Homo sapiens: one gene and its partner. The protein of the gene in region 2 purifies or fractionates together with the protein of the main gene of each other region. This does not show direct contact. Each region holds a gene or a part of one and is shown on either strand. Other genes may lie near its edges.

Region 1 (3,845 bases), on a different chromosome or scaffold from region 2:
CAGTTTGCCTGAAACAAAGCTTTAGGAAGGTGCAAGACTCTAATCATTCCCCTACAACATTCAACTCCTTCCTGTGTCTCTGCCATATTGCCTTCAGAAACATCAAACTTTTGGATCAACTCTATGCAAACTACCTTCCCTAGTCCTACTTCCATGGTGATGAACATTGCTGGAGAATGCCACAATCTCTAATGGTAGCAACACTAGAGAACTATAGTGTCTGTGTTTGTCTGGTGCATCAGCACTGCTAAATCATTTCCTCCCATTTTCCCCAAAAGGCTATCTTCTCAGCATCTATACCTCACTTCTACTTTTCTTGCTCCCCTCTACACCCATCAGAAGATGATCTTGCCTTCTAATTCACATAATTTAGGCCATGATACGTGAGAACTTCTTCACTTTCCTGCCCTATGCCTATAAAACTCATAAATATCTTGCTGTTCTCTCTTCCTGTTTAAGACCAGTCTCTTCACCTGTGTTTTATATCTACATCTTCTCTGTCCCTAGGGTCTTTCTTCTCTTTTATTTTTGTAAAATAAACCTCTTTCTAATCCCTGGCTGTATTCTTCCTGTCTATAATATTGATTGATATCTCATGTATTAAAGAATCTCATTCTTAACCTAGGGTACCCTTGAAGCTTTCTTTATTAGTTTATCTCTCTCCATTCCTAGCCAGATAGTAAGGAAGGCTGGTTTAGATTTTCTGTCTCCACTTCTCAATTTCCCTTTTATCTGGTTACTGTCCCCATCACACAACTTAACTGAATCTCTTACAAAGATCAGTGACAACTCAAAAATTCCAAGTCATTTCAGAGGGAGCCATAGTGATGTCATGGTCACATGATCAATTCCTCTGTATATTTTATATCTATGTTTTCTCCCTTTCCAGGGACTGTCCTGTCTTAGTCATCACCTTTTATTCTTGTAACATAAACATAAACACATTTATTTGGGTTATTTCTGGGCTATTGTTCCATGGACTTCCAAACCACTGGCTATCCAGGATCTTAGGCCTTATGGCCAGAAGAAGAAAAATAAGCCACGTTAATAAAATTCTCTTTCTCTTTGTAACTTGAAATAGGAAATATTGAGATATCCTACTTAGAAGTAGGAACTAAAATGTGAATATTGTGAGATGAGAGGAGCCAGACAGAGGCTGGAGCATTAATAAGGGCCACGTGCAAACTAAGCTATAAGGACACAGGGACTGTGAGTAAAGAGAGCACATCTCAGGGAGGGAACAGTACAGAGAAAAGCAGGGTTGCCATGAGAAGCAAAGACCGGTTTTTAGGGCTGCCTGCTTTTGCTGTGCCAGTTCTACTTTATATTTATTCTTGCATTGACTTTCTTATTTAAGGAAGGAAGAAAACATTTATTGAGAACCTGGCCAGGCATGTTTCCTTCCTTTAAGGAAAAAGGAAGTCAATGCAAGAATAAATATAAATTAGAACTGGTGCAGCAAACTAAGGCAGCCCTAAAAATGCAAGAATAAATATTGTGAGTGGAACCCTGTTCTTTGCAACCAAACAAAAGCCTATACCGCCATCCAATCTCATCTTTTGCCACTTCTTTATCCTCACTCTGGCCATGTAGAACTAGTACTAGTTCTTTCAACATAACGAGCTCTTTTTGGTAGTCCCTGTGCCTTCATAAAAGCAGTTCCTCTAGCTGAGAATGTTTCACTCCTGCCCTAATTTCCATTCACTTGGCAAGCTCTTCCTTCAAAATGTTTAAGTGGCTTCACTCCTCTCCCCCAATAATTTGATATGATAATTAAAAGAATTGTACAGAAAATATCTTTATACAATATAAAATCAGCCAAAATTTTACTTTTGTAAATCTTTTATTGGAGACAAAAGCAAACTTCATCACTTTTTTTCACAGTGATAGTAATTGTTTGTTTTGATATTTTTCTCCACTTTTAGGCCATGTGCTATTTTACTGCTGTTGAAGGAATAAGTTGTATCTTCTTTAGCTTTGTGTCTTTAGTATCTTAGTCAGTGCCTGGCACCTTTGTGAATAATAAAAGGTATGAGGAATTCGAAGTAAGTTAGGTATCTTTGTTCTTTTTGTTGCTTTAGCACTTCTATTATAATACTTATAGTCACTTATTATATAGTGTAGTAATTATTAACTTCTTCAAACAATGTCTCTGTATTGTTTATCATTCTATCTCCAGTTTCTGGCACGTTGGAGGTTCTCAGTACATTTTTTTTTTAAACGGGGTCATGCTCTGCTACCCAGGCTGGCGTGCAGTGGTGTGACCTCAGCTCACTTCAACCTCTGTCCCCCAGGCTCAGGTGATCTTCCCACCTCAGCCTCGCAAGTAGCTGTGACCACAGGAGTGCACCACCATACCTGGCTATTTTTTTTTTGTATTTTTTGTGGATATGGGGTCTTGCTATGTTGCCCAGGCTAGTCTCGAACTCCTGAGCTTAAGCAATCCACCTGCCTTGGCCTCCCAAAATGCGGGGATTACAGGTGTGAGCCACCATGCCTGGCCAAGTTCTTAGTAAATGTTTTTGAATAAATGAATGTGGACTCAAATGAAATTGAGATCTTAAGTCATGGCTGCTAACATTAATGAAGATATAGGTGTCAAGAGGAAAAAAATTAATTAAGTTTTAATCCTTTTGAGTTTGAAAAGTCATGGAAGTTTGTAGATGCAGATTGAAATCTCAGAACTGGAGAAATAGATTTGGAAAGCACTGTTGGGTCAAAGCAATAAGTAAGAAAGTAATGAAGAAGAAATGGCTGAAGACAGAAACTTGGGTATCAATAAGAGAAAGGTGAGCAGCCAGTGAAGGAAAATCAGAGACAGGAGGAAACCCAGATGGTACAGTGTCATGGAAATTAAGTTCAAAGTGATCTTCAATGAGCTGCTCTCTGGACCCTAAGCAGAGGTGGGGAGAAATCATGTGAAAAATTACACCTTACAGCAAATAGCTGACCCCTGATCTCCATTCTTATTATTTTTATCTTTTCCTATTCTCTTAATACAATTTTTCACTAGCTAGTTTCCCTCCTCCACTGGCCAATGGTAGTGAACATTATAACCCTAGACAAATGATGAAAATGCCTTCTTAAGGAGTCTACATTTGGGGGGATTACCTTCACAAATGATAAGCTTATTTGAAACAGAATAGAGAATTGGCTATTTTGAGTTTCATTTTACTTATTTGTTAAGAGAGGATAATAATAATAATTGTCACACTGGATTTCTGGAGAGATTAAACAGCATACTTTTGTAATATACTTCTTGGCATATATTAAACACTCCATAAGTGGTAGCTTTAATATTATTATTATGCAGCCCACCTATATTTAAATTTGATTATATTCTCTCTGTAGTTTTAACATTTGATGGTTTAAAATAATCAAAAACGATTTAATGTGTGAGTTCCATGAGGGCAGATATTTTTAAATTTATTATTATTTATTTGTAAAACATTTAAAGAGCATAAATGCAATTTTGTTACATAGATATATTGGAGTTAAGGTGCGGGGAGGACAAAGCAGGGTCTTGTAGGTAGGGGTAAGGACTTTGTATCCCCGCCTTCTAAGTCTTATGGAAAACCATTAGAAGCTTTTGAACAAAGGAATGATATGGCAATATTTACTTTGGAAAAACATCTTTCTGGTTGTTGTGTGGAGAATAAACTGCAGGGACAATAGTGAAAGCAGAGAGATCAGTTATTGTTGCCACAGGTAGGAAGTGATGATGGCTTGGCCTAGAATGGTAGCAGGAGGGTGGTGAGAAAGGGTAAGATTTAGATGATGTTTTGAAGGCAGAGTGGGCAATATTTGCTGAAGGAGTGGATCTGGGAGGTGATAGAGTCAAGGAT
Region 2 (4,190 bases):
CACAGGAAAGAACCACTAGCAGAGTGGTGAGAGAGATTTACTTTTGTTATGAAGGATAACTTTAATTATCTTACAAAAGACAGTTTTCAGTATAATAAGAGCACAGAAGTTAAGTTGTGGATAAAAAAATCAAAGACATCACTGTTTGCCTTTGATATTTTGATGAAAGCAGGTGATGGTCAGGGAAACTAACCCATGGTAATTGGATGAGAAGTGTGTAAACAGCAATAGGCAGCCACATCTGATCATTGCTTATTCCTGCTGGGCCTTCTCAGATCTTTTTGGTAATCTTTTTGTAGAGTCTAGTTTCTCCTGTAAGCTGTAAGCAGACCTGGGTCCTTTTGTGAGTCCCAGCCTTTGTCCTCTTGCCCCCTATGAACAGAGGTTTCCTTGGGGACAAGTTTAGGACTGACGTGCACCAGCCACTGGCCATAAAGGTACTGGGCTGCACCCCTACAGCCTGGGGTGTTTGGCTGTAGCCTCAGCTTTTGGCTTAGGGAATCCCTGGACTGGCCAATGGGATGCTGCTTCTAGTTCATCCTTTGACTACTTGGCTGTTTCTTCACCTCTTCTTTTTCAGGGGAATTTGTTGCAGGATTCGTTCAGTTCCGGGTGTTTAATAACGAGAGAGCAGCCAACGCCCTTTGTGCTGGGATAAAAGTTACTGGCTGTAACACTGAGCATGTGAGTTTTTGGGGAGATCAATGGCCCACGTGTGGGGAAAAGAAAGAGAGATCAGATTGTTACTGTGTCTATGTAGAAAAGGAAGACATAAGAAACTCCATTTTAATCTGTACTAAGAAAAATTGTTTCTGCTTTGAGATGCTGTTAACCTGTAACTTTAGCCCCAACTCTGTGCTCACAGAAACATGTGCTGTAATGAATCAAAGTTTAATGGATTTAGGGCTGTGCAGGATGTGCCTTGTTAACAATATGTTTGCAGGCAGTATGCTTGGTAAAAGTCATCGCCATTCTCCATTCTTGATAAACCAGGGACACAATGCACTGCGGAAAGCCGCAGGGACCTCTGCCCAAGAAAGCCTGGGTATTGTCCAAGGTTTTCCCCCACTGAGACAGCCTGAGATATGGCCTCATGGGAGAGGAAAGACCTTACCATCCCCCAGCCTGACACCCGTAAAGGGTCTGTGCTGAGGAGGAGTAGTGAAAGAGGAAGGCTTCTTTGCAGTTGAGGTAAGAGGAAGGCTTCTGTCTCCTGCTCATCCCTGGGAATGGAATGTCTGGGTGTAAAGCTGACCACTCCCATTCATTCTATTCTGAGATAGGAGAAAACCGCCCTGTGGCTGGAGGCGAGATATGCTGGCAGCAATACTGCTCTGATACTCTTTGCTACACTGAGATGTTTGGGTAAAGAGAAACATAAATCTAGCCTATGTGCACATCCGGGCACAGTACCTTTCCTTGAACTTATTCATGATACAGATTCCTTTGCTCACATGTTTCCCTGCTGACCTTCTCCTTACCTGTTGCCCTGCTACACTCCCCTCACTAAGATAGTAAAAATAATGATCAATAAATACTGAGGGAACTCAGAGGCTGGCACCGGAGCAGGTCCTCCGTATACTGAGTGCTGGTCCCCTGGTCCCACTGTTCTTTCTCTATACTTTGTCTCTGTGTCTTATTTCTTTTCTCAGTCTCTCATCCCACCTGACGAGAAATACCCACAGATGTGGAGGGGCTGGCCCCCTTCACCATGTGTGTGCATGGGTATGCACATGTGTGTACCTGTGTGGGGTGTATCAATGTGTGTCTCTGTGGTTACTCGCTTACTCTCATTCTGTTTACTCTCATTACTCTCCTGATGATGTCTTATGAATATAATTTATTTTTTATTTCTTTTTTTTTCTTTGAAGAGTCCTTTTCTTTCTTTTTTTTTTTCTTTGAGACAGAGTCTCGCTCTGTCACCAAGGCTGGAGTGCAGTGGCGCGATCTCAGCTTACTGCAAGCTCCACCTCCCGGGTTCATGCCATTCTCCTGCCTCAGCCTCCCGAGTTGCTGGGACTACAGGGGCCCACCACCACGCCCCACTAATTTTTTTTGTATTTTTAGTAGAGACGGGGTTTCACTATGTTAGCCAGGATGGTCTTGATCTCCTGACCTCGTGATCCGCCCGTCTCGGCCTCCCAAAGTGCTGGGATTACTGGCGTGAGCCACCACGCCCAGCCTGAAGAGTCCATATTTTTAATAAAAATTAAGTGGTACAAAGTTTGGAGTAGTAGATGCCAGAAGTTGAGTATAATTTATTTGTCTTTTAAATCTTATGTATTTATTTATTTATTTTTTGAGAGGGAGTTTCACTCTTGTTGCCTGGGCTAGAGTGCAATGGCAGGATCTCTGCTCACTGCAACCTCTGCCTCCCGGGTTCAAGTGTTTCTCCTGCCTCAGCCTCCTGAGTAGCTGGGATTACAGGAATGCACTGCCACACCCGGCTAATTTTTTTGTATTTTTAGTAGAGATGGGTTTAGTAGAGATGGGTTTCTCCATGTTCTCAAACTCCTGACCTCAGGCAATCTGCCCACTTTGGCATCCCAAAGTGCTGGGATTACAGGCATGAGTCACCGTGCCCGGCTGAGTATAATTTATTTTAATGGAATTCAGTTTATCAAACTTTTCATTTATGGTTAGTACTTTTAATGTTTTCTTTAAGATGTACCTCCTTACACCGAGGTCGTGAAAATATTCTCCAATATTAATCTTAACTTTTAGAAGCTTTATATTTTTATTGTTTTTCCAGTCTTGTAGGAGACAGCACCACAGTTGTAGTGGTGGGAGATTGTATTTGAGGGACATCCTGTGCCTAGGGGTTGGAGGAAGAGAGCGTCAGAGCCATCAAGAACAAGGGCATTCACTTAGGGCCCCCTTCCCTCCCCAACTGACAGTCTGAACTCACGGTTCCATCTTCCCTGCCCCAGCTTTCAGCTTTTTCATTTTCCAGCTAAGATGAGGCAGCTATTCTCTCATGGAGGGACTCGCAGATTAGAATTCGGAGGATGACGACCACGTGGGCAGTGGGGGTGGACTAGAGTATATGTCTTTATGCCCTTTTCCTTGACAAGTTTCTCTACTGGCTCTGTGCTCCTCAGACTGTCCATTAGTGCGTGTTTGTGTATGTTCCTGCATGCATTACTACTTTAAAATACATGCATAGGGCCAGGTGTGGTAGCTCACACCTGTAATCCTAGCACTTTGGGAGGCCGAGGCAGGCGGATAACTTGAGGTCTGGAGTTCGAGACCAGCCTTGCGCTCACTGGTGTCAGCAGCAAATCAAATTCCTCACAGTGTTTCTTCTTTCTGTTTCCCAGCACTGCATCGGTGGAGGAGGGTTCTTCCCACAGGGCAAACCCCGTCAGTGTGGGGACTTCTCCGCCTTTGACTGGGATGGATATGGAACTCACGTTAAGAGCAGCTGCAGTCGGGAGATAACGGAGGCGGCTGTACTCTTGTTCTATAGATGAGACAGAGCTCTGCGGTGTCAGGGCGAGAACCCATCTTCCAACCCCGGCTATTTGGAGACGGAAAAACTGGAATTCTAACAAGGAGGAGAGGAGACTAAATCACATCAATTTGCAACTCTATGTTTCTTTGAATTCTTTTTATAAATTGGCTGATGTGTTGAGGGATATTTTAAAAGAATACCTATGGTTCTGGTGAATTCCACCTCACATATTCTGGGCTTGCACAGTGGCTAGGAAGAACCCATTGAATAAAAATAAATGTTCACTTCAGCAACACATATACTAAAATTGGAACAATACAGAGAAGATTAGCAAAAAGATATAAAAAAATTGAAAAATAAAAAGACATTCTGGGCCAGGGATGGTGGCTCATGCCTGTAATCCCAGCACTTTGGGAGGCCGAGGCAGGTGGATTGCCTGAGGTCAGGAGTTTGAGACCAGCTTGGGCAACATGGCAAAACTTCATCTTTACAAGAAGTACAAAAATTAGCTAGGAAGTAATGCGTGCCTGTAGTCCCAGCTCCTCAGGAGGCTGAGGTGGAAGGTTGGCTTGAGCCAGGGAGGCAGAGGTTGCAGTGAGCCAAGATCTCGCCATTGTACTCCACCCTGGGTGACAGAGCAAAACTTTACCCAAAAAAAAAAAAAAAAAAAGAAAAGAAAAGAAAAATAAAGACAAAGACATTCTGGGTTTGGAATTTCAAGTCTCATCTGTCCCAG

Evidence for each region.
Region 1: the proteins of ITLN2 (region 2) and OPRPN purify together in Homo sapiens (affinity purification with mass spectrometry; one large-scale study listed by BioGRID and IntAct). This does not show direct contact.

Annotation. Positions count from the first base shown.
Region 1 is NC_000004.12:70,404,440-70,408,284, reverse strand, and holds part of OPRPN (opiorphin prepropeptide isoform 1 precursor), read right to left. Parts: intron 1-3,845. UniProt on the Homo sapiens protein: Opiorphin is an endogenous inhibitor of neprilysin and aminopeptidase N. Inhibits the breakdown of substance P, Mca-BK2 and Met-enkephalin by neprilysin in vitro with IC(50) values of 29 uM, 33 uM and 33 uM respectively.
Region 2 is NC_000001.11:160,944,423-160,948,612, reverse strand, and holds the end of ITLN2 (intelectin-2 precursor), read left to right. Parts: intron 1-580; coding exon 581-684; intron 685-3,320; coding exon 3,321-3,473; 3' UTR 3,474-3,588; downstream 3,589-4,190.